3 separate regions of the Homo sapiens genome follow, and all the other regions are linked to region 2. The links come from fine-mapping of genetic effects on gene expression. A gene starts in region 2. Each other region holds a variant in brackets. All regions are shown on one strand. Distances are from middle to middle. Region 1 overlaps RAC2 (Rac family small GTPase 2). Region 2 holds the start of TST (thiosulfate sulfurtransferase). Region 3 holds the start of NCF4-AS1 (NCF4 antisense RNA 1).

Evidence for each region. PIP is the estimated chance that this variant, and not a neighbour inherited with it, causes the effect.
Region 1: its variant is fine-mapped to the expression of TST in monocytes (Fairfax 2014, PIP 0.95).
Region 3: its variant is fine-mapped to the expression of TST in whole blood (TOPMed, PIP above 0.99).

The regions. Positions count from the first base shown.
Region 1 is chr22:37,231,228-37,239,486 of GRCh38, forward strand. It overlaps RAC2 (Rac family small GTPase 2), which reads right to left. Exons shown (of 7, transcript NM_002872.5): 3 at 1,574-1,691; 4 at 705-767; 5 at 4-163. Among named protein-coding and RNA genes, the nearest start is that of RAC2, 8.9 kb to the right of the region's middle. RefSeq lists enhancers at 1-36, 2,524-3,025, 3,026-3,525, 5,806-6,484, 6,485-7,163. The variant A/G (reference allele first, on the strand shown) is at 4,091.
Region 2 is chr22:37,014,439-37,022,697 of GRCh38, forward strand. TST (thiosulfate sulfurtransferase) reads right to left here and starts at 5,009. Exons shown (of 3, transcript NM_003312.6): 1 at 4,962-5,009; 2 at 3,700-4,315. The coding sequence starts at 4,294. MPST (mercaptopyruvate sulfurtransferase) reads left to right here and starts at 5,304. Exons shown (of 3, transcript NM_021126.8): 1 at 5,304-5,434. The coding sequence starts at 5,399. RefSeq lists enhancers at 3,552-4,527, 4,556-5,057 and silencers at 4,531-4,590, 4,751-5,140, 5,171-5,290, 5,301-5,620.
Region 3 is chr22:36,865,977-36,873,976 of GRCh38, forward strand. It overlaps NCF4 (neutrophil cytosolic factor 4), which reads left to right. Exons shown (of 10, transcript NM_000631.5): 4 at 1,416-1,486; 5 at 4,439-4,566; 6 at 5,676-5,733; 7 at 6,351-6,449. It overlaps NCF4-AS1 (NCF4 antisense RNA 1), which reads right to left and starts at 4,467. Exons shown (of 2, transcript NR_147197.1): 1 at 4,117-4,467. RefSeq lists an enhancer at 5,817-6,355. The variant A/G (reference allele first, on the strand shown) is at 4,304.

The DNA.
Region 1 (8,259 bases), 220 kb after region 2:
TACCAATCTCCTTGGCCAGTGCCAGGCCCTGCGGGTAGGTGATGGGAGCCAGCTTCTTCTCCTTCAGTTTCTCGATGGTGTCCTTGTCGTCCCGCAGGTCCAGCTTGGTGCCCACCAGGATGATGGGTGTGCTGGGGCAGTGGTGCCGCACTTCTGGGAACCACTGGGCAGGTGGGTGGGGGGACACAAGGTTGTATGGGTCAAGAGGGGGCGCGAGGCTGTGCGGGGATCAGAGGGAGTGTGAGGGTGTAGGGAGAGGAGAGGCAGCAAGTTGCCAGAAGATCAGAGGTGGGCACGACGGTGAGGAGAGAGAGACGTGAGGTGGCACAGGGAGGGGAGGCCACGACGTTGTGCAGGAAGGAGGGGGCGCATGATTGTAGGAAAGGAGGAGGCGAGGTTTTGTGCAGACATAAGAAGCAAACATGAGGTTATGTGACAATCGGAGGCGGACATGAGGTTGTGTGGGGAGGAGGAGAATGCAGCCATGGAAAGTGGGGGTATAGCTAACTATCGCAGCACCCCCCACCCCAGGTCCTCTGAATCTTACCCCCTCAAGTCCCTCTGCCAGCCCTGGTTGGCACTGGGGACCCTCTCTGTATGCGACCTCTGCTGCCCCAGGGACCAGCCTAGAGTCACCAGTTCCTCCCTCTGTCCCTCAGGGTTACCTGCCCCAGAGCCCCCAAGGCCCACCCTGTCCAGCTCACCTTGGCGCGGACGTTCTCATAAGAGGCTGGGCTGACGAGGGAGAAGCAGATGAGGAAGACGTCCTGGGGACAGAGCAAGCGAGGTTGCTAGTGAGGAGGGCCCAGAGGTGTCCCACCATGGCAGCCACCGAGAGGTGGAGCTTGGGGCTCCCTGAGGGTGGAACACCCCAGGGAATGCTGGGGACTTAGGATCTGGGCAGAGCAGAGATACCCTTCTCGCCTCTACCACGAGGCTGCTGTTTGTTAGGACGCTCACTAAAGGCCAGGGCCTCTGCGAAGTGGTTATCCTCACATGTCACTCTGCAGCAAGCACTGCTGGTAGCCCCATTCCTCAGACAGGGAAAGTGAGGCTTCCAGAGGTTAAAGAGTTTGCCAACGTGCACTCTGGTGAGGGGAGGATCTGGGATTCTAGAGTCCATACTCCAATCCATATACTATCCACCATCTGATTACCGGCCTTAGCCGCCTCCCTGCATACCCTGGAGGAAGGGCGAGGACCCAGCAGCCACCTGCAGGCATCCTCCACCTCTCCCCTCCCCCAGCACTCCCAGGGCTCACCATGCTGGGCTGCCTCCTGGGGCCCTGTGCAGAATCCACCTGCCCCACCACTGGAAACAGGGGGTGCCAGAGCCCAGGAGGCAATGGGGTGGGAAGATGGGCACATTGAGGACCGGGAACCAATGCAGGGCTGAGGGAGTGCAAGAGGAAGCCCTTCTCTGCCTGGGACATGCAAGGCAGGCAGACTCCCTGAGCTGGGCCTTAAGGGGAGAGGTAGGGTTTCCCAGGCTGAGCTGGCTGGAAGGGCATCCCAAGCAGAGGGAACAGAGACAGCAAAGGTCAGGACTGCAAGGCAGGTGGGAGCAGCACACCGTCTGTGGATAGGAGAGCGGCCGGAGACGGTCGTAGTCCTCCTGCCCAGCAGTGTCCCACAGCCCCAGGTTCACTGGCTTGCTGTCCACCATCACATTGGCTGAATAGTTGTCAAACCTGTGGGGAGCAGGCAAGGCGGAGGTAAGGTCAATCTCAAACCCCAGAACCTGGGAATTGTGGTCCAGCTCCATGTCATTCCTCGGAGGCTGAGACCTAGAGACAGTCTGCGACTGGCCCAAAGTCACACAGCATTTGCAATTGGGTTTCTTTATTTGTTTCATTACTGATTCATTATATTTTTTAAAAATGTAATACAAGTTAACAAGAAGAAAAAAAGATTGTCTCTTAATCCTTTTCCTACCCGTACCTGTCCTTTGGAAAGGTAATTGAGGCTGTGTAACTTTTCCTCCCAGTCTTGATGAGAATAAACTTACCTCTCTCCCTATGCTGCCACTCAATGTTTGCTTTTTGTTGTTTTTTGTTTGTTTGTTTGTTTTTTGAAATGGAATCACGCTCTGTCGCCCAGGCTGGAGTGCAGTGGCACCATCTCGGCCCACTGCAAACTCTGCCCCCTGGGTTCAAGTGATTCTCCTGCCTCGGCCTCCCAAGTAGCTGGGATTACAGGCATGCACCACCACGCCCAGCTAATTTTTGTATTTTTAGTAGAAACAGGGTTTCACCATGTTGACCAGGCTGGTCTCGAACCCCTGAACTTAAGTGATCCGCCCGCCTCGGCCTCTCAAAGTGCTAGGATTACAGGCGTGAGCCACTGCGCCCAGCCGCAATATTTTGTCGAATGAATGTTCATCCCGTCTCAGGCTGGGTCCCCCCAGAAGCAAACCCTGAGACAAGGAGGTGATGTGAGGGGTTTATTCGGGAAGTGACTCCAGGATGCTGCAGAAGGGGAGTGGGGAGGAATAAAGGAGGGGACAGCAGCTGACACAGGGCAGGTGGTTGAGTTGTCATGGCTGTGGACTGCTGCTGCTCTCAGTCCTGCTGGGGCCACCTGGGAGACAGAACGGACCGTGCTCAGGGCGTCCCCAGAGAAGGCAGGAAGCTAGGGTGCTGTCATTCATCTCCCATCTTCCAGGGAAAGAGGGCTGCTTCCGGGGCCTTTCAGCCCACCCCAGAGTGTGCGTGAAAGCTGTTAGTCACTGGCCATGGGAAGGGCCACGGCAAACGGTAGAAAGACACATGCTGCCGAGGAGATGGTGTGAGGCACTGACCTTGACTCCCAATGTCTCCCGCCAGACCCAGAGAGCCCTGCAGGGCCATCGAACGAGCCTCCAGATGCACTTGCTAGGCACCTACTATGCATCGGGTGCAGAGCCAGCGCTGGGGCCACCAAGGAGTACATGCCTGATCCTGCCCCCACAGCTGGCGGAAGGCCAGACACGGGGTGAGGGGCCTGACAAATATCAGAGACGGGGAAGCCCAACGAATGCTGGGAGGGCCATCCCAGGGCTCCAAGCTCGGAATAGGGGAGGTTTTGCAAGCCAGTTCTTGCTACACACATCCCCGCGAGGAAGGTGCTGGCTACCCACGCTGTGGAAGGGAAAACTTGGCTCAGAGAGATGCAGTGACTTGCCCAAGGCCACACAGCCAGTGAGTGACCCAACTAGGTAAGAAACCAGAAACCAGTGACCACGACCAGTGCTCACTGCCCCAGGCCACAGCTGTGCCTCCGGGAATGCCCTCACCGCCTGCCCCTGAGGGTTAGGGAATCACTGTCACTTTTCCCGCTGTGGTCCCCCACACAGGCCCTGACCTGGTCCACTGAGACCTCCGGCTCCTCTGACTTCTCCTCCTACTCCTCCCCTCGCACACCAGCCAAGCCGTTTCCCGGGAAAGGCTCACACTGCCCACCTCCCTGTGCTGGTCCACACAAAGCCCCTGCCCAGAATGTCCTTCCCACCTTAGCTGTCCATATGTTCTCACCAACCTGGTCTCTGGCCCCCACACCCTCCAGGCTGCCCAGCCCTCCAAGCCTTTGATCCTGTCTGTATCTCCCTCTGGAATACGCTTCCAGCCCCATTTCACTCCCAACTTCTATTCATGCTTCAAAACCCTGCCCAGACAAGTCCTCCTCTCTGGCGGAGCTTCGTCGTCCTCTACCTGTAAAGAGCCCATGGTTCCCTCTCTCAGGTGACTACTTTGCCTGGACCACGAGCAGGCACTTGGTGAGTCTCCACCCCTTCAAGGGCTGTGGGTTCTGTGTGGGCCAGGCCGATGCCTGCTTATTCTCCACAGTCTCAGGCCTGTCACCCAGTGAATGCAGGTGGAAGGGAATTAAACCACCTCCTCCAGGAAGTCCTCAGAGAACGCTACTCAATGTTAGGCTGCAGAAGCGCTAACACTTCAGAGTAACACAAAAGACACCTCTCCTGAGAGGAGTCCCCCACACCCCCAAAAAGTGGGCAGCCCAGCCTTTTTAATACACTTTGCCTGTCCAGCCCTGGACAGAATTCCTGGTTACCTCTCAGTTCCTCAAACGGCCCTGTTCCCGCCTGTCTGGA[A/G]AGTGCCTGCAAACAGTGGCCCCTGACTTCCCACTCTCCTTCCTCTCTCCCTTCTCTTCCTCCCCACTGCCAGGCTGGCTGACTTTTACTCATCCCTCCAGCCCCTGCTCAATGTCACCTCCTCCAAGAAGCCTTTCCTGACTTCCAGCCATGTCGGGGCTACCACCCCACCTAAACCAGCACTCCTTGGGGAACTCAGCATCCCAGGTGGCAGGCACTAAGCCTCATTTGTTTGCCGCTGCACCCTGGGGCCAGCCCGCGGTCTGGTGCACAGCAGGTGCTGGCGTGCACCTACTCTGGGTACCACCTACACTGCTGTGGGATTTCAGGAAGAAGGCGCTGTCCAGGGAGACACAGTGAGGCATGATGGGAAAAGCCACACCTGTGTTGTTTTTCCAGTTTTGACCAGAAACACACTTTTGGGAAATGCTTGGACACTCTCTCCTCTAATGTCCAGCCACAGTGCTAGTGCCAAGAAGCCCCACAAGATTCACCTGTCTCCTCTGGGTCATCCCTGGAATCTCAGGGCCACGGTGATGGGGAAAGAGCTGGGACCTTGAGAAGCAACAGCCACCTTCTCTGAGGCCAGGCAGGGGGCTGAGGGTCTTTGTATGTTAGGTCTTGAAGTCTCATGTGATCCAAGACAAAAGGATCTTAAGTTACCCCCATTAGACAGATGAGGAAACTGAGGCCTGAAGAGGTCAAGGACCTTTCTTGTTGGGCGGGAACACAGAGTTCCTTGGGAAGCCAGGACATCCTGGCTGTGTGACCCTGGGTGAGTGACCTAACTTCTCTGAGCCTCAATCTCTTTAATGTGGAGGGGAAAATACCTATTTCTTGGAGCCATTAGGAGAATCCAAAAAAACAGAGGATGTTCAAGCCACCCCACTGGGAGATGCTGAGAAGCTAAGCAGTCTCATTTTCCATGTCCCCAAATGCCCCTGCCACAGGGCCCCTCCCCAGAGGACCAGAGGGACAGGTGCAGGAATGTGTCAATGGTGTGACACCCCTGAGGGTCCCCCTTACTTAAGAGACCCACAGGCAGCCAGGACCAGAGAGGAACCTTATGCACAGACCACCATGGGCAACCCTCACCCCATTTTCCGGATGAAGAAATTGAGGCTTACAGAGAGGAAGGGACTTGCCCAAGATCTCCCAGCCAGTGGGTGGCAGAGCAAGGCTAGATCCTGTTACCCAATTCAGAAAGGCCCACATGGTAAGCATCGCTGCTATTTCATGGCTGGAAATGGAGTTGGAGAGAGCAGAGACCATGTTTTCATCTAGTGCCTGTAGAACTCTGAGGCCTGGCCCTAGAATGGAGTGGAGGAGGGGAATGGGGCAGGTGGAAGGGGCCCCAGCACCCAGGTATCACCTGACCACCACCGAAGCCCACCCCCACGGAGGAAGGATGGTGCATTCAAGGAACCCAGAGACCACAGGGCACGCATGGCTAGTGACTTGGGGGTGAGAAAGGATTGATGTCATAGGGGCACGGACCAGTCAGGTCTTGGTTCTCAGGGCAATGGGGAACCAGCAAGGGGCCAAGCCAGGCAGAGGTGATGAGATCAGATTTGCATTTATAAAAGGTCCCAGCTGGGCACGGTGGCTCACGCCTGTAATCCCAGCACTTTGGGAGGCTGAGGCAGGTGGATCACCAGGTCAAGAGATCGAGACCATCCTGGCCAACATGGTGAAACCCTGTCTCTACCAAAAATACAAAACTTAGCTGGGTGTGGTGGTGCATGCCTGTAGTCCCAGCTACTTGGGAGGCTGAGGCAGCAGAATCGCTTGAACCCGGGAGGCAGAGGTTGCAGTGAGCCGAGATCGCACCACTGCACTCCAGCCTGGTGACACAGCGAGACTCCGTCAGGAAGGAAGGAAGGAAGGGAGGAAGGGAGGGAGGAAGGGAGGGAGGGAAGGAGGGAGGGAGGGAGGGACCCTCTTGGAGAAGTCTTAGGGAGGGGCCAGAGGGGAACAGAGGGGGAAACTGGCACATCAGCCAGGAGGGGAGGCCCTTACCGTGCTATTGGTTGAAAGATGAAGGCAGCTGGAGGTGTCACGGGGCAGGGAGAGGTGGAGCAGGAGGGAACAGAATACCCAACAGAAGGGGTGCCTGAGCTAAGGCAGAGGCTTGAGCCACTGGACATCATGAGGCACCCACACACACAGCGGCAGGAGCAGGGATGGGGCTGCCGAGAGGCCAGGCAGAACCTGGTGGGGCCTGGCGCACACAGCTAGGGAGGCTGATGTCATCCTGTCCACTGGAATCCCAGGCTGGATTCGCCAGTTTACCGAAGAGAGGATTTCAAATGAAAGTGAAAATTAAGTGCCAAATGATTCAACCTCAATTAGCAGCACACATTCTTCCATGCAGAGCTGAGCCCTGCCTTCCTCCCCGGGGTCGGGGAGGCAGTCATGACGGAGCAACAGGAATGGGCTCAGCTCTGTTCTAGAAACTGGCGCGATGGCAGGGAGTGAGGCAGATAAGGGCCCCGTCCTCAGGGAGCTTCCATCCAAGAGGAGGAGTGGCAGCAAAGGAGCAGCAAGATGAAGTCGGGCTGTCGGGGGGCCTATGAAGACAGCCAAGCAGGGTGGTGGGATGGAGAGGGCAGGTTGGAGACGGGGGGCTGCTGTAGACAGGGGGTCAAGGAGGCGATGTTTAAGCAGGGAACTGAATGACAGGAAGCAGGGAGGGTTCTGGGTGTCATAAAGGGGAGTGAAGAGGTTCGGGGGAGGCAGAGATCATCAAGGCAGTCTGTGTACTTGGAGTGAAGTGGGTAAGGGGTGTGGTAAATGAGGCTGGGGAGACGGGGGCTGTTGTTCACGGTTTGCGCATTAAGATGAGTTTTAAGTGTGAAGGGAGCCACAGGAGAGATTTAGGCCAGGTTAACTTTCAGTTGTTTTTTGGGAGGCTCTTTTTATTTTATTTTATTTTTTGAGACAGGGTCTCACTTTGTTGCCCAGGCTGGAGTGCAGTAGCACAATCACAGCTCAATGCAGCCGCACCCTCCTAGGCTCAAGCGATCCTCCCACCTCAGTCTCCCGAGTCGCTGGGACTACAGGCATGCACCACCATGCCCGGCTAATTTTTGTATTTTTTGTAGAGATGGGGTTTCTGCTCCATGTTGCCCAGGCTGGTCTCGAACTCATGGGCTCAAGCGATCTGCCTGCCTCAGCCTCCCAAAGTGCTGGGATTACAGGCATGAGCCACGGCGCCCAGCCTAACTTTCAGTTTTAAAAGCTCACCAGGGCTTCCGTCGAGCTTGGTTCTAACGAGGTGAGGTGTAAGGGGGCGCCCCTCTATGCCACAGGCACACGAGGGCACTGTCTTCCTGCCATGTTTCTGTATCCCCAACACCTAGCACGGGGCCATCCACAGAGCAGACTCAGGCTCCCCATCTGCGAAACGGGGGATTTGATGCAAAGAACTCACAGGGCCCTGCCGGCTCCAATATAGGGTCTATACAACAGAGCAGGCGGCAAGAGCCAATCACGGTGCAGCCCCACGAGTCCTGGCAACTGATTGGCTGCTCAGGAAGGTGTCAGTTCCGAAGGTTCAGGTCCATCCCTTTGCTGTTAACCCCTCATGGCTGGCAGCATGGGGAGCCAGCTCTCAGGCTTATCTGATCTTGTATCTGCAGCAGGGGCCTCCCCAACCCCCAGCAAACCTACCATCCTCAGCCCAGAAGCTCTCTCCACCTTAATCTCAGGTGCCAGAGATTTGGGGCTGCCTGTTTTTCCCAACCCACCTTCTCTCCCTCTTCCCCCTCCAATGTCAAGGGCCCAGTGTGACTATTTTACCCTCCCTTCACAGGGGCACAGGCATTGGCAGTAGCAGGATCCCGCTCTGGGGTCTCGTCTGGGGCTGAGAAACTTTGTGCCTGAAGCCATATGAGGGTGTGAGGCAGGATTCACCACAGAACTTGCAAGACCCAGTGCAAAATGGAAGTACAGGGCCCATGCTCAAAAATGATTAAGAATTTCAAGATGTAGACATCAGAGTATTAAACAAGGTGCAGGACCCTTCTGAGCATGGGGCCCTGTGCAATTGGATAGGTGGCCACACGCATAGAGCTGGCCCTACTGGGATACCTTCACCCAATCCTTCGGAGAGACTTGGGAAGGTAGATCTGGTCGGGCCTATTTCTCCAGCTTCTGTGATGTTGTCC
Region 2 (8,259 bases):
CTCCCATGCTTCTCTTCCCAAGTCTAGCTGAAGGCTTCTGGCTCTCCCTGCCCCCAGCAGGCATGCCCCCATTCCCATAACCTGCGGCACCAGGCACTTGACAGCAGGTGCTCTCAAGAATTTTATCCTCCTCAATCCTCACAAAGCAGGGGAGATTATTCTCTCAGCATTGCTGGGGGAGCCCAGGCTCAGAGAGGTGATGTCGCTTGCCTCAGGACACACAGCAAAGGTAAGTCTGATTGGTCTGCCCCCAACGCCTGTGTTCTTTGACCACCCTGAGCCTCCCTGGAAAAGGAGACTGAGGCTGGGGAATGGATGAGATGACCTCTTGTACTCAACTACTAGAGTTAACATCCCTCAGGCCACTGGTAGGTGTGGATTTTTAAGGCCAGGAAAAGCTGTCTGGCGCTTTCTCCTTTTACTAAGGAATCCAGAGCAGGCAGCCCCAGAAGGCAACCCCTTAACCCTAGCCAGGAAGAGGCAGCCCTGCACCTTCCCTCCTCCCTCAGCCAAGCTCCCAGCCCTGGGAGGGAGAGATAGGCAGAGTGGATTTTCAGTCCCATACAGCAGCCCGGGAGCCACACCATGGAGCCGTGACCTTTCCCTCAGCCCCTGGGCTTGCTTACAGCTCACCCCACCCACAGCAGTAGCCTTGGGAAACAGCCCCAACTTGAAGCCTGCCGACCTGGGGTCAAGTCTCTGCCACTTTGTCTTAACAGAGAAGCCCCTTCCTTGTCCCCACCCACAAAGTGGGACCCAGCCTACCTACCCCTGCCTGCCTCCCCTTGCAGGGCTGCTGTAGGTGTCCAGAAGAGACTATATAAAAAGCGTTCTGTAAATAAAAGTGCTCATTAGCGGGTCGATACCCTCCTCCCTTCTTCACCCTCACTCCCTCCAAGAAGGGAGGCAAAGAAAATTAAGTCGATAAAGAAACTGGGCTGGATAAACTCCTACTCTGCCTCTCTCACTTCCTCCAGCCCTCCTCTCAGGTGAGCAGCGCTCCTTTCACGAACAACAGTTAGCGGTGAAGGCACTAGCCTGAGGCTAAGCATCAGTATCACACCTGGATGGAACCTCAGATCTGGCTGACTCCAGGACTAAGAGCTTGTGGAGGCACAAAACTACAGCCAAAGAGGAAGGCGCTTGCCTAAGGTGAGCAGGAAGTGGCCGCCAGGTGTCTAAGCTCTGCTTCTCGCTCCATTTAGGGTCATTCCTTCCAGAGATGATCAGGGCCAATGCCTGACCCCCAGGTCTGCCACCCCCATGCCCCTGTGTGTTACATCTGGACCGCTGAACCTACAGGGTGCCTCCCTGATCCCACACCACGCTGGGAACCATAAACTTGGCAGAGCCTCATGTGCCTTTGTGTCCCCAAAATATCTTGTATGGGAGGCCAGCAAAGCCTCTTGGAGGAGGGGGTTGGGGGGGAAGTGCCACACCCTCCAGGATTTGTATCGTTCCTTACCCTTCTTGAAATCCCTTTCCAGCCACTGCTACTTTTTTTTTTTTTTTTTTTTTTTTTTGAGACAGAGTCTTGTTCTGTTGCCCAGGCTGGAGTGCAGTGGCGCGATCTTGGCTCACTGCAACCTCCACCTCCCGGGTTCAAGCGATTCTCCTGCCTCAGCCTCCCAAGTAGCTAGGATTACAGGCACGTACCACCAACGCCTGGCTAATTTTTTTTTCATTTTAGTAGCGACGGGGTTTCACCATGTTGGTCAGGCTGGTCTCGAACTCCCGAGCTCATGATCCGCCCACCTTGGTCTCCCAAGGTGCTGGGATTACAGGCGTGAGCCACCACGCCCGGCCGCCACTGCTACATTTAAACAAATGCATACTCATGTGGGTAGGGCTGGCGTGACTCTTCTCATTTTATGATAAGGAAACCCAGAGAGGCCAAGCAACTGGACTGAGGTCACTCCAAGGAGGAGTGGCTGAGCTGAAATGAGAATCCATGTTCCCTGATGCTCCTGAGGGAAACTGAAGGAGGTGTGAACACAATTACAGAGGAGGAACTTCAGCATCCCGGGCCTTCAGGAGGCATTACCCACTGCAGGCCATTCTCCTCCTCTGAGCCTCAGTTTCCTCATCTGTAAAATGGGTGAGGACATTGGGCCTGGCACCTCCAAGCTGTCCCTTCCACTTATTTCTTAGGTTGCTTCAGGGCAGGCTGGGAAGCAGCAAGAGAACCAATTCCACTGATCCTCCCCCATGACAGCTTAAATCCCAAGGAGAAGAGGCGTCTTGAACCAAGGCCAGGAGAGGGCTGCAGGCGTTCCCAGCCAGGATTCTCTGGGAGGTGCCAAATGAACTTGAATCTTCAACTCCAGACCTTCAGAGAGCAAGCAGGCAAGAAAAATATGGGGCCTGGAAAAAGCTGCGCTGGAAAGGGCAGAGACCCTGCTGTCCTGGCTCTGTCACTAACTAGCTATGCGGCCTTGGCCCCTGCCTCTGTGCACCTCAGTCTCCCCTCTGTCAGGTGAGGTCACCGTTCAGGCCCTCCAGCTCTAAGAGTGTGCAGAACAGTTTTCCCAGCATTCTCTCTGTAGGAGGTACAGACAGGAAGAGATGTTTTTCAACAAGTCAGGCAAAATGTTGCACACGAGTTAGATTCTGTAGAGAAGGAGCTCTGACTGAGGAAAGAGCCACCAAGGAGGTGCCCAGAGACAAGAGAGGGCCCTGCTCCTGGAAATGGCCAGGCAGGGACTGGAGGGCACTCAGCAGGAGTGATGGCAGCGAGACGGCAGTCCTGCCTCTAGAAAAGGGAAGACCTCCGAGGTTCTGTCTGGCTAGGAGGTTCTAGAACTCAGCATTTCCTCTCCTGAGGCTCTCCCCAACCCTCAAGCAGTATCCAATCCACCTGGCCTTCCCTTCCACAGGAGGGGAACTTCTGAGTCGCCTTCCTGGGGCAACTAGCAGAGGGGACTCCCTCCTGGCCCTGGGAAGTAGGGGTAGGGCAGCATTGGGTGCGTCCTGGTTTATAGCCCTGGTTTGAAACAAGGCAGCATTGGATTCGAATCCTGCCTTCCACCACTTTATGTCCTGGCATCTCAGTCCCCCCACCCCCCGCTGCCAAAACAGGGGCATTGAGCTTTGTTCGCTGAGATAATGCGGTGCCAAGTGTCTGGCATGAAATGGCAGCTGCTGTTACAACTCTGCCGACGGGCTGCAGCTGCCTGGAAAGGTTATGGAACCTTTGCAAACAGCAGGCAGGGGCCCCAGGAGAGCTAGATTTGGGGAGAGGGGGATCCTGCGGGGAGGGACACTGTTGATGTCTATAAGGGTTTCTGCGGGACGAGAGAGGCCTGGAGAAGCTGGATGTGTCCGTGGGAGGTTTCTGTACAGCAATGCAAACGCTGGCTCAGGGGCATGACACCCTTAGGTATATCCTAGTACATGTGGGGCAGCTGGTGCCTGGGAGTGGAGGTGGTGGACATGTCACCAGTGACTTCTGCTCACACAGATGCTAGGTGGCTTCTTAGCACATGGCTATGAGGACACATTCTTGGGTCCTTGTGCATCCAAGCTGAAAAAGCCTTTAGGTTTGTCTCCACTTTCTGGTTTTATCGATGGAAAGACTGAGGCCTACATGGGAGGATTGAAGGCATGGGACGGACCCTGGAGAGGGTCCCAGTCATCCTTACTCCCTATCCTTCCATGGGGCAATACTCCCCAGGGACCACCCAGCACTGGGACACCTACCTACTGCATCCGGCTCCGGCTCGGTGCCCAGGAACCGCCCTTGAGACCTTGAATCCACCAGCTGGAACCTCTTAGATTCAAGGTTCTCCAGCACCTGCTCGTAGGTCTTGAGCAGGGAGCGGTCCAGTGTGGCTTTGAAGACGGCCGGTTCTGGGCGTGAGGGCTCGGATGTCACCGGGTGGCCCTCCTTCAGCCAGTTCCGGAAGCCACCATTGAGCACTGATACGGTGCGGTGGCCAAACACACGGAACATCCACCAGACCCGGGGAGCATAGAAGCTGCCCAGGTGTTCACCATCATACACCACCACGTGCGTGTGGTTGCTGATGCCCAGGCGGCCCACATACTCGGCGAAGCCAGCCTCGCTGGGCAGCATCATCTCGTAGGGCGACGCCGTGTCCCGGCACTCTTCTATGTCAAAGAAAGAGGCGCCGGGTACGTGGCGCTCGAGGTACTCCTTGCGGGCCTCTCGGGTGCCTGGTGAGTACCAGGACGCGTCCAGCACCCGCAGGCCGGGCCCCAGCTTGCCAGTCCTGATGGACTCCGCCAGCCACTTGGTGGAGACCAGCGCCCGGTAGAGCACCTGATGAACCATGGCTTCAGCTCTGCGTGTCACCTGGCACGGGTGGGAACCAGGAAAGAGAGACAGGCGTGAGGAAGGAAGTCGGTGTGTGCAGTAGGGTGAGGCCTGGGAGAAGCTCTTTCTCCCTCCGCACTCCCCCGGGTTCCTTGTTTACAGCAAGCCAGCGAGGCTGGGGCGTGCAGCGGGATAAGTTTGCAGATTCCCTCTGGAAAGCCGGCCCCGCCCCTCCCAGCCGGCCCGGGGGCCCAGCGCAGAAGCGGGTGGGGCAAGAGTTTCCGAGGACTCCAAGTAGGGGCGCTTCCTGGGGCGGGGATCTGGCTCCTAGAAGTTACAGTACTCGATCCCGCCAGGAAAGAGCAATGAAAGCATGCCCGGGATGGGGGGCGATGGCATCTTGGGCTTAGAATCCCCTTTCCTTCCAAGGCAGAGGGGGTGGGCGCACGGCTAGGAAGCTCCGCGAGCCGCGCACACGCCATCGCCTGCGGCCTCCCCAGGCAGCCCGAGCTCGCCCGCCTCCAGAGTGCCCGAGTCCGGCCCGTAGCTCGCTGCCCTCTGCCCTAGGTGGATCAGGGGTTCCCGGGGCACCCCGTCCCACTCTCGCAACGCTATCCTTCCCCGGGCAGCAGGTGGCCCGACCGGCGGCCCAGGCGCCCGGCCGCTGCCCCCGCCCCGCACTCACTCGCCCCGGACGCCGCGCTGGCGCTCGCCCCGGCCGGCTGGAGAAGTTGGCCGGTTCAAACCCCCGGCCGCAGCTCCCCAGGCGGCGCGCACCATCGCGCCACCGCCAGAGGGGGACCCTGCGCCGCCCGCCGCCATCCCGCGCCTCCCCCGCGCGGCCGCTTCGCGCCCGGCACCTGCCAACCTCGCGCGCGGGGCCTCCGGGACCCGCGGGGGTCTGAGGGGGACGCCGGGTGGCGCGGGGGCCGCGCGGGCCTGGGCTGGGCGGAGCGGGCGTACCCCCACGGCCCGGCCAGTGGAAGGCGCGGGCAGCAGCGGCTCCGAGTGGCCGCGGCGGTGGGCTGTGCCGGAGTCTCCTCCCTTTGGTCCGCTGCAGGTTGGTGGCGGGAGGAGGGGACAGCTGCGGGCGCGGGGAGGGGGCGCCGCGCCGCGGGGGCCATGGCGGAGCCAGGAAGCCGGGAGTCCGAGACCCGGGTAACTGCCGCGGCGTGGCGGCTTGCCTTTCTGGAGGGGGAGGGAGTGGCTCTTTGGGGGTGCTCGGCGCGGGGCTCCCGCGCGGGACCTGGGCGGAAGAGGGGGCTTAGTCTAGGAGAGAAGGCGCGCCGCTACGTTGGCACTAAGGGTGACTGTCCGCTTGGGGCGGCCTGCCGGGTGGGGTCGTGGCGAGTGGCGGGTGGGGAGCCTTGGGTGGAAGTGGGTGACCTGGTGGCACCAGAGAGGGCGGGGGAGAGAGAGGAGGACAGGGAGACGAGACCCCGCTGACCCAGAGGCCCCAGGAAGAGACACTAGCCAATAACTTGTTAGTGAGTGAAAGGAACTAACATTGTCCAGCCCTGCTTGGTGTGGCACTTTGCTGGGTACTCCCGTGGTGTGACTTAATTCCCACAATAACCCTGAGGAGTAGGCCAGAAACTTACTAAGACAGGAGAGAGCGGCAGAGCGAGTTGCTGGAGGACACACCCAGAGTTGAGGCCGGGCCTGATCCCTGGTCTGAAGCCCACGTGGTACCAGCTGCCTTTGTTTACCTGGCTCTTCCCTGAAGGTTCATGCTTTTTAAAAAATTGCCTGTTTTGAACTTAGCCCGTTTAATCATAAGTTGATGTAATTCAATTTTTAATAATAGCTGTATTTAACAACCAGTTGGCAAAATTCCTGAAAAGCTCGCCATGGGCTCTTGCAAACTGGGGGACACCATTGCCCCTCCCTAGCTTTTGCAGAGGCCAGCCTGGAAGCTTTCCCTGTTTCCCAACCCTGACCTTTTGTTTTGTTTTGTTTTTTGAGACAGGCTGTGGTTCTGTGGCCCAGACTGGAGTGCAGTGGCGCCATCTCAGCTCACTGCAACCTCCGCCTCCCAGGCTCAAGCGATCCTCCCACCTTAGCCTCCCAAGTAGGTGGGACCACAGGCATGTGCCACCATTCCCGGCTAATTTTTAAATTTTTGGTAGAGATGGGGTTTCACCATGTTGTCCAGGCTGGTCTTGAACTCCTGGGCTCAAGTGATCTGCCCATCTCAGCCTCCCAAAGTGCTGAGATTACAGGCATGAGCCACCATCCCTGGCCTCATCCCTCTTTTTAAAAAAAGGTTTTGTTCTAAAATGCTCACAGCAATCCTCAAAGCCTAGTGTCTGGTGGTTGGGGGAGGGGGTGGGCAGGAGGGACCAGGCTGGGGAGGTCCAAGAGGAGCTCCCAAGCTCTGCTCCTCAAGGGGTACCCTGGATCCAGCCTGCGGCTCACGCTTGCTTCAGTGCAGCTGTGTATCCTTCTGACATGAGCCTGGGGCGGTTACGTCCTGGGGTCCTCCACTCCCAGGGCACCCTCACCTACAGTGATCCCGGCTTCTGAATCACACAGGCACCTGGTTTCTACCCCTCCCTGACACCCACAGCCTGCCTTCACACCCTCCTTTATGGCCCACAGACCTTTGTGAGAAGTGCCAATCAAGCAGGGAGACTGGGGCAGGGTGACCTCAGATCTCTGAAGTCCCACCAAGCCCTGAAATTCTAAGATTTTAGATTTGCTGCTGGCAGTTCCAGGGCCACCAATGAGAGTAATGGAAGAAATAATGCAATATTATTATTATTATTATTATTTTGAGATGGAGTCTCACTCTGTTGCCCAGGCTGGAGTGCAGTGGCGCGATCTCGGCTCACTGTAACCTCTGCCTCCCAGGTTCAAGCGATTCTCCTGCCTCAGCCTCCCGGGTAGCTGGGACTACAGGCTCATGCCACCATGCCCAGCTAATTTTTGTATTTTTAGTAGAGATGAGGTTTCACCATGTTAGTCAGGCTGGTCTTGAACTCTTGACCTCGTTATCCGCCCGCCTTGGCCTCCCGAAGTGCTGGGATTGCAGGTGTGAGCCACCACGCCCGACCTAAACCGTTTTTAATGATTATTAAAACCAGCCAGATGTAATGCATGGTGGTTGCCCCTCTACATTTATTGTTTAATCTTGGCTCTAAGAGGTGGAGGTGAGAAGCTCCATTATAAGGAACAGAAACCACCCAGAGACCCTACACACCCACATCACACAACCAGTTAAGCAGTGGAGTGGGGTTTACATTGATTTGGGGGGCTCTCTGGCTCCTAAACCAGGGCTCTTTCTACTGTAAATGGATGATTGGGTGAGGGAAACAAGGATCCTCAAGAATAGGGGACAGTGTTTGGGGGTGCACAGGGGCTGCTGTGGTTCCCACAATAGGGTTCCTCAGGAAGGAACCTGCAGCATCTGCCAGCACAGCGCCCCCTAGCTGTGCTGTAACGCAGATAATGGGGATCACCCCTTAGCCAAACACCCCTTGGCAGCCTCCCTACCCTAAAGACCGTGCTGAGGCTTCCTGGGCCCCTGGAAAAGTCAGATTAGTCTGGACTTCCTCCTACTCCAGGAAGCCTTCCCACCTCTTCTGCTGCCACCCCAGGCAAACATAGGGGCCCTCTGTGCTCAACACTGAATTCTAAACTATCCTCAATTTCACTCTCTCTTGCCTGCAGCCTGACGTTTCCCCCCAGGGCTTGGCAAAGGCAAGAGTGCCTCGGTGTCCGGCACAAGGCCTGACCGCATGGGTGAAGTAGGTTCCTAAAAGCCAGCTGCGGCCAGACTGTGGGGGTGGGCACAGGGTGTCACCCTAGAACTCATTAGGCCCTGGTCATCATGGCACCTGGGGCAGGGGAAGTCCAGCCTGAGGGGTCAAATTCTGGCTGCAAATCCTGAGGCTGCCTCCTGTGACCACGGGCAAGGCACTTATTCTTCTAATTGCCAGTGGCCTCATTCATAAAGCAGGCGTCCTAATACCCGCCCAAGG
Region 3 (8,000 bases), 150 kb before region 2:
CTCTCTCCTGACAATCTACCCCTCCTTTTCCTTGTATATTCATCTTCCTCTTGATATACCAACTCCCTCTGCTAAGCGTCTCCACAGCCTCAACCCTCTTCTGTCTTTAAACAATCCTGAGCCATGAAACAGCATTCTTACAAGCCTCCCTGAGCCTCCGTGCCCCCAGGGCCCCCAAAGTTCTCTTTCTTCTTCCTTTGGCATCAAATTCACGCACTGTCTCACCTTGGCATGGCCATCCTCTCCTTAACTCCTCAGCTTGGTTTAGCTCTGACTACTCCACTGAAATTCCTCTCGGTGAGGTGGGCCATGACCCATCAATTCTGGCTTCCATGGCCAGTGCCAAGCCTCATCTTCACACCCCCACTCCTTCCTCTGTTAAGCTTTCTCCAACCTCCTGAGGCACCAGTGTCTCCCAATCCCCTTCCTAGCTTACTAGAGACTCCTTCAGCTTCTCTGTTACAGAATCAACCTTCTCTGCTGCTCCTTGGAAGGTGGGGATCCTCTGAGCAGACATCCTCTCTCCCCTGCCTTGTCTTCTCATTCCAAACACTCACCCTGGCAAACTGACCCATGTCTGGGACTTAATTGTCACGTTTTTGCTCCTAACTCCCAATGTCTAGCTCTAGCCCAGACCCTCCTACCGCCGCCGCCATCACCTCTGTCCATCTCCTGGACACCAGGAGCCAGGCAGGTTTCAGACTTGCTTCCTCGTAGGGGTTCTCTTGGTGAATGGTTCCACCAGTGCGCCCACATGAAGGCACCTGGAGGGGACATTTGTCTCTTGGTAGCCCGTCATATTTCCTTTTCCTCCAGAACATCTGCCTTGAGCTTGAGGAATTGTTCATTCATCCACTTAACAAATGCTCATTCATCTGGGCATGATTCTAGACCCATGGTTCTTAACTTTGGTGGTATGTGGACGTGCCTTGAGAGATGGAAAGAATCCTGGTTCCTGAGTCCTGCCCCCGGAGATTCTGATTTAATTGCTCTGGGGCAAGTGCTACACAGTGAGATATTTACAAGCTCCTTGGGTAGCTTGAATGTGCAGCCGGTGTTGCCACTGTCCTGGGTGATGGGGGTACAGCTGTGAGCCAAGCAGGTGAAAATCCTGCTCTCTTAGAACTAAGAGTCGTGTGTGTGTGTGTGTGTGTGTGTGTGTGTGTGCGCTTGGATGAACAGGCAGTAAATAAAAAAGTAAGACAAGAAAAATATCAGCTGGTGATAGCACAACTGAGAGGATGAAAGTTGGATGGTGCCAGAGTGGCCACTTCAGTGCTGTGAAAAGATAACAGGGAAGAATGCTGAGCCATCGGGAAGGGGCTCTGGCCAGGGTTCCTGGCCTGTAGGGGCAGCCCTGAGCCCCGGGGCCATGTTGGGCCAGGCTCCTAGGACAGCTCTTTGTCTCTTCTCAGCCAAAGTCTACGTGGGTGTGAAACAGGAGATCGCCGAGATGCGGATACCTGCCCTCAACGCCTACATGAAGGTACCAGTGGGCCTTGCCACCTTGGCACGTGGAAGGGCATGCAGTATTGGTGGGGGAGCCCACGTACCATCCCTGGGTATGGCTTTGGGAACTGGGGCTGGCTCTCTGGCTCTGATGGCCCCATCTTCAATCCCTAAAGGCCTGGTCTGGGGAGTAAAACAGGATGCGTCCTTAGGGTTCCAGAGATAGGAGCAGGAGCAACGGAGAAGGTAAAAGAGCCACACTAGGAATTGACAAGTCTTCATTTAATGCTCCAAGCCCCACAGGTGAATGTCTATGCCAGGAGTTAAAATACAAAGGTGAATTCCATCCAGTGTCTGCCCCCAAGGTACCCACTGTCCTATGGGAATGCCAACAGGTGGATCATAAGATCACACGGAGACATATGTGTGCCTCCATCATGGGGGTGTGGCCAAGCAGGCCGCAGGTTGCTCATATAGCATCTTTGTGCAAACTAGAGTAGGCCTCCTCTGGGACAACTCACTCCCTTACGTGAACATGGGCTGGATTTTAGCTACACTCATGGGTCTTGGCTGGGGGCCCTTGTGTATTCTCCGACTTGCAAACTCTGCATCTCTATGAGATGGGAGCGTAGAGGAAGGAGCATCTTAAAGGCAGAGGCCAAGGTGGTCAGGAAAGGACTTCCACCAGCCACAGCCATCCAGGAAAGGGGCAGTGTTCCTCATGAGGTGGCAGTGAGTGCACCGTCGCTAGAGACCTGATAGTGACCTCAGGAAGCTGGCAAGCGAAGCCCTCCTCCCAGCCCAGCGGCATCCTCACAGCTGGAGAGCGCTGGGCTAGGATCCTTTAGTCTTGACTCTGACACTGACTGGCTGGGTGATTTGGGGTGAGTTGCCCATCCTCTCTAGGCCTTGGTTTTCACACTTGTGAAATGGGGCAGTGCCCTCTAGTATCACAGGAGTGAAGTTGGGATCTGTCGAGAACAGGATGAGAAAGTGCTTTGTAAACTGTGAACCTGCTTCCAGAATGTGAGAGATCTTGACTCCTGATGGAGGGAAGGAGCAGATGGAGGGCAGAGGAGGTGGGAGGAAGGAGGAGAGAGCAGGTAGCTGCAGGAATCCTGGGCTCTGAGCAGGGAAGAGGGAGGGAGGGGAGCTGGGTGGGCTCCAGCTGCTCCTTCAGGGTGGCTGAGGCTCCACCCTTCTCCCCCTGGGCTAGAATAGGGGAGTGGGCTGTGAAGGGAGGGAGGGAGGGAAGGAGGAAGAGAAGGCAGGAGGCGAGGCTGGGGAACTGGGGCTCCTCATTCCACACCTGGTCTTAGCAACCAGCAGCCCAGAGGATCCATCTCTGCCTCTTTGTGTCCAATTGGGTTCCTGGAAGCCAGAGATCATTCAGGGCAGGAATCTCTGCCATGGCCACCCCATCCTGTGCTTGCATACCCTCAGAGATGGGGAGCTCACTACCACTCCGCCCTGACCCAGGCTGCCTGTCCCATTGTTGGGCAGCTATGAGAAAAGCCCAACTCTCTGTAAGTCCTACCCACTGGTCTCACCCCGCCCTCATGAAGAATGTGAATCACATGATAATGACAACTGCCTGGAACTGCGTGAAGAGCTTTGACTGGCAACCAGGAGACTCTTGATACACGTTTATTGATAAATGAATAATCTTATTTAATCCCCTCAATAACTTGTGAGTTAAGTGTGACAGAGCAGTTAGGTAGGTGGGATGAGATTTGAATTCACATCTCTGTGACTCCAGGGTTTGAGCTCTTACCCACTGTGCCTCGTTGTAATGAAAATCACAGTAACAATGATGACATCTAACTTTGATGGGCACCTGGTATATGCCTGGTGTTGTTCTAAGGATTCTGCATGTATTTACTCATTTAATTCTCACACAATCCCACGAGGGAGAGGCTATTATTGTCCCCATTTTATTAATGACCATCTGGAGCCAGGTTTGCCCAAAGCCACCCAGCTGGTGACAGGCAGAGCTGGGATTCGATCCCAGGAGCCCCTGGCTCCTTAAACACCTCCCAGGCTGTCCCCATATGACAGCCTTTTCCGGGCTCTGCATCCCCAGTTCCTCTCGGACAAAGTTCCCCGACCCCACCTCATCCTGCTGCCCCCATGGGATCCTCTGCAGGGCTCTGGGTGCCTCTGGAGCCTCAGCACCCAAAGCCAACCCTCAGTGTCCCCAGACCTGTGCGCTTGGAGTTTGGTGAGATGACCCCGCCAGGCTCTGGGTGCTCGCGTCCTCACAGCTTCAAAGTCTTTGCATCGTGGTGGGTGTAACCAGCTTGGATGAAACAAGGACACTAGGGCTCAAGTCCGGGCCCTGTCACTTAGCTCGGCTCCTCTGGGCCAGGTACTTTCCCTCTCCAAGCATCAGTTTCCTCAACTATGATATGAGATAAAGTATCAGGAAGCATTTTGTAGGCTATAATGCCACCAACTGTTGTTAATTTGGGTTATTTTGGGAGCCCCCCACCCCCGCCAACTGTTGTCTCACCTTAAGCTTTGGGTAGCCTTTAGTGGCAGATGGCTCTGGGTGCCCCAGCTCTGTCCCTTGCTAGGCTTTGTGGCCTTGAGCATATCCCTTCACCTCTCTGATCCTAACTCAAGGGATGTCATGAGATGGAGCAAGGGCGCGCATGTGATACCCACCTGGTAAAGTCACCGCCGGGTCATGTTAGTTGTCATCACCATTACTGCTGTTTCTGGAGAACTTTAAGTCTTTTCCAAATGGACTCTTCTCAAGCCCCTGGTCCCTCTCCTGACCTTGGACCCAGGAGCAGAGCTTGTGAAGTGTTACCTTCAGCATGCTGAGTTTTCTTATTCTTTTAAACAACGC[A/G]TTTCTGTTATCAGGCATCATGCATTAGTAAAGAGAGGAGGGCTGATGTCAGGGCTCGGGGACGGGACATCTAGGCTGGGGTGTCCAGATCTTTCTGCTGACTACCCCACCGGTTCTGCTGTCTCACCCACACAGAGCCTGCTCAGCCTGCCGGTCTGGGTGCTGATGGATGAGGACGTCCGGATCTTCTTTTACCAGTCGCCCTATGACTCAGAGCAGGTGCCCCAGGCACTCCGCCGGCTCCGCCCGCGCACCCGGAAAGTGTAAGTGACCAGCCCCTGGGCTTCCACATGGCCAGAGCCCTGGGTCCCTGCTGGAAAAGCATCTCTTTTCCCTGAAAGGAGAGAAGGAAAATACAGATCAGCCATATCCCTGGACACTCCAGGATGATTTGATTTATTAGATGGGTTTAGAAAGTCATGTTCAGGCTTGGAGGGACAGAGGGTGTGTGCCTTTCAATGTGATAATAAGGATTGGAAGACGAGGACTGGGATATTGACTCCAGAGAGTTTGGTGCCACAGCAACTACTGGGGATAGCCCAGAAGCTCTGGGTGCCTGGAAAGAATTGGGGGCAGAGAGGAGGGAAAAGCTGCCCCATCCACAAACATTCTCTGAGCATCTCTGGGAATGCCTTCTCCCTGGTGTGTTGGAGCTCCATGGGGCCAGCTATGGCTCTAGTTGTATCATGCTGGCCTCCAGAGCACACTGTTCCTCCCTTATTCCAAAAAGCCCATCCTTCCCACCAAAAATTCAAGCCACTCGTAGACTGCTGGGCTTCCAAAGCCCAGGTTGCTGCTACTAAGAATTCTGGGAAAAGCAGGACGGAGCTCCTGAGCTCCCCACCAGCTCCTCCCTCTGCTTCCTCCCACCAATGTCTCCAAGGGTCCTCTCCATGCCTGGCATCTCCCCTGTGCACACAGGCAGGTGTGTCTTAATTCCAGCTGTGCCATGTGGCAGCCGCAGGCCCCAGAGCAAGGCACTTCACCTCTCCAACCTTCAGTTTCCCTCAGCTGAAAAATTAGAAACAGTCACATTTACATCAGAGCTTGGTTGTAGGGAGCAGAGGAACAAACACATCTGAACACTTTGGCAAGTGAAAGGCACCGAATGAGCGTGTATCCCCTTCCCCACCTGCTTTCTGAGCCTGGCTTCCTGGTCCATAAAGAAGGGAGAACAATCCCACCTCCAAAGAGGTTGTGAGGATTTGGGGACAAGTGTGCCCGCCCAGAGGAGCAATTGCAGCCACATTTCAGCATCTTCTGTCTCCTCTGCCTTCCCTGCTCCTTGCAAGGGGCTCCTCTGGACACAGGAGCAGGAAGCTGGGCCCTGAGAGAATCACAGGGCTAACAAGCCCCTCTTCTCTCTCCACAGCAAGAGCGTGTCCCCACAGGGCAACAGCGTTGACCGCATGGCAGCTCCGAGAGCAGAGGTAACCCCCGCCCCCACGCTGGCCAGGCTCTCACACTGTGGGCATCTGCCTTGGCCCACCTGCCAGCCACTGGGCCTCTCCTGCTGGGTGCTGCTGTGTGCCTGGGACAGTGCTGGGCACCAGGAGGAAGGAAGGGGTTACAGCCTCAGCCTCTGCCACTGGGGGTCCCCCGAGCCCAGCTAAGGGGAGGGCATGTGACCAGCGTGCGGAGCCAGAGGAGAATGCTTCCATCCCTACGCTCATCCGGACAGTTTACCTGGGCCTCCTCTGAGTCAGCCCTGCCTTAGGCATGGAAGCTGCAGAGATGACTCAGACAAGGCCCAGCCCACGATGAAGCCTGGGGACCAGGGTGGGTGCTCAGCCCAGAGAGTTCGAACCCTTCCCTGTGTGCTCACCCCCACCAGGTTTGGAAGGAGCACCCATCCTGGAGTCAGGGAGACCTGGGTTCAATTCCCAGCTCCTCCACTAAAAAATGGGGTGGCCTCAGAGAAGTCGCTTATTCTCCCCAAGCCTCAGTTTCTACATCTGTAAAATGGGAGACTAAAGTATGTAAGGCACTTCTATAGGAACTCAGTGAGTGTTCTCTCCTTCCCTCCTTACTGCACGCTTCTCCTCAGGCTCTATTTGACTTCACTGGAAACAGCAAACTGGAGCTGAATTTCAAAGCTGGAGATGTGATCTTCCTCCTCAGTCGGATCAACAAAGACTGGCTGGAGGTGAGTTCAGAAGTGAGGATGGAGGTGAGATTGAAGGTGAGGTTGGAGGGAAATTAAAAGTGAAGATAGAGGTGAGGGTGGAAGTGCAATTGGAGGTGAGGATGAAGGTGAGGGTGGAGGTGAGATTGGAGGTGAGGATGGAGGTAAGAGTGGAGGTGAGGATGGAGGTGAGATTGGAGGTGAGGATGAAGGTGAGATTGGAGGTGAGGGTGGAGGTAAGAGTGGAGATGAGATTGGAGGTGAGGATGGAGGTGAGATTGGAGGTAAGGTTGGAGGTGAGATTGGAGGTGAGGTTGGAGGTGAGATTGGAGATGAGATTGGAGGTGAGGATGGAGGTGAGGGTGGAGATGAGGGTGAAGGTGAGGATGGAGATTGAGGGTGGAGATGAGGGTGAAGGTGAGGATGGAGGTAAGGGTGGACGTGAGGATGGGGGTGAGACTGGCAGTAAGGTTGGAGGTGAGGATGGAGGTGAGATTGGAGGTGAGGGTGGAGGTGAGACTGGAGGTGAGGATGGAGGTGAGATTGGAGGTGAGATTGGAGGTGAGGGTGGAGGTAAGGGTGGAGGCGAGAGTGGAGGTGAGGATGGAGGTGAGACTGGAGGTGAGATTGGAGGTGAGGATGGAGGTGAGATTGGAGGTAAGGTTGGAGGTGAGGATGGAGGTGAGATTGGAGGTGAGGATGGAGGTGAGCGTGGAGGTGAGATTGGAGGTAAGATTAGAGGTGAAGATAGAAATGAGAATGGAAGTGGGATTGGAGGTGAGTTTAGAGGTAAAGATGGAGGTGAGGATAGAGGTGAGGAAGGTGAGTTTGCAGGTAAGGATGGAGGTAAGATTAGAGGTGAGGATGGGGGTGAGTTTGGAGTTGAGGATGAAGGTGAGGTTGGAAGTGAGGTTAGAGATGAGGTTGGAGATGAGGTTGGGAATAAGGATGGAGGTGAGGTTGGAGGTGAGGATGGAGGTGAGAATGCAGGTAAGGTTAGGCTGAGATTAGAGGTGAGGCTGGAGGTGAGGTTGCTTCAGGCATTGTATGCTTCAGAGACTGAGGATGGTCTCAGAAGGCCTCAGGGAAGAGATGCTATCTGAGGATAGCCCTGGAGATCCAGGCAGGTTGGGGAGCCTGCGGGAACAAAGCCTTTGGGGAGGCAGGTGTTCGGTGGCAGCAGAACATTCTTGGAGCTCATGCTTTGGTTCTGACCCTGAAAAATGGGTTGCTTAGGGCAAGTAAGTTAACCTACTGAGTTTAGTTTCTTGGTCTGTAATGGGTGTCTCAGCAGGGGCACTATTGACATTGGGGCCAGATGGTCCCTTGTGGGGTTGTCCTGAGCATTGCAGGCTGTTCAGCAATATCCCTGGCCTCTCCACTAGATGCCAGCAGCACTGCTAAATTGCACCAATCACATGGCTCTCCAGATATTTGCTCCTGAGGGGTGAAATCGCAACCACTTGTGTAATATGGGACAACAGTACATACCTTGCCCACAGCAGTAAAAGCTGCTGATGAAGAGTGTGAACTCAGAGTCAGCCTGTTTGGGCCATTTCCTAGCTCTGTTTT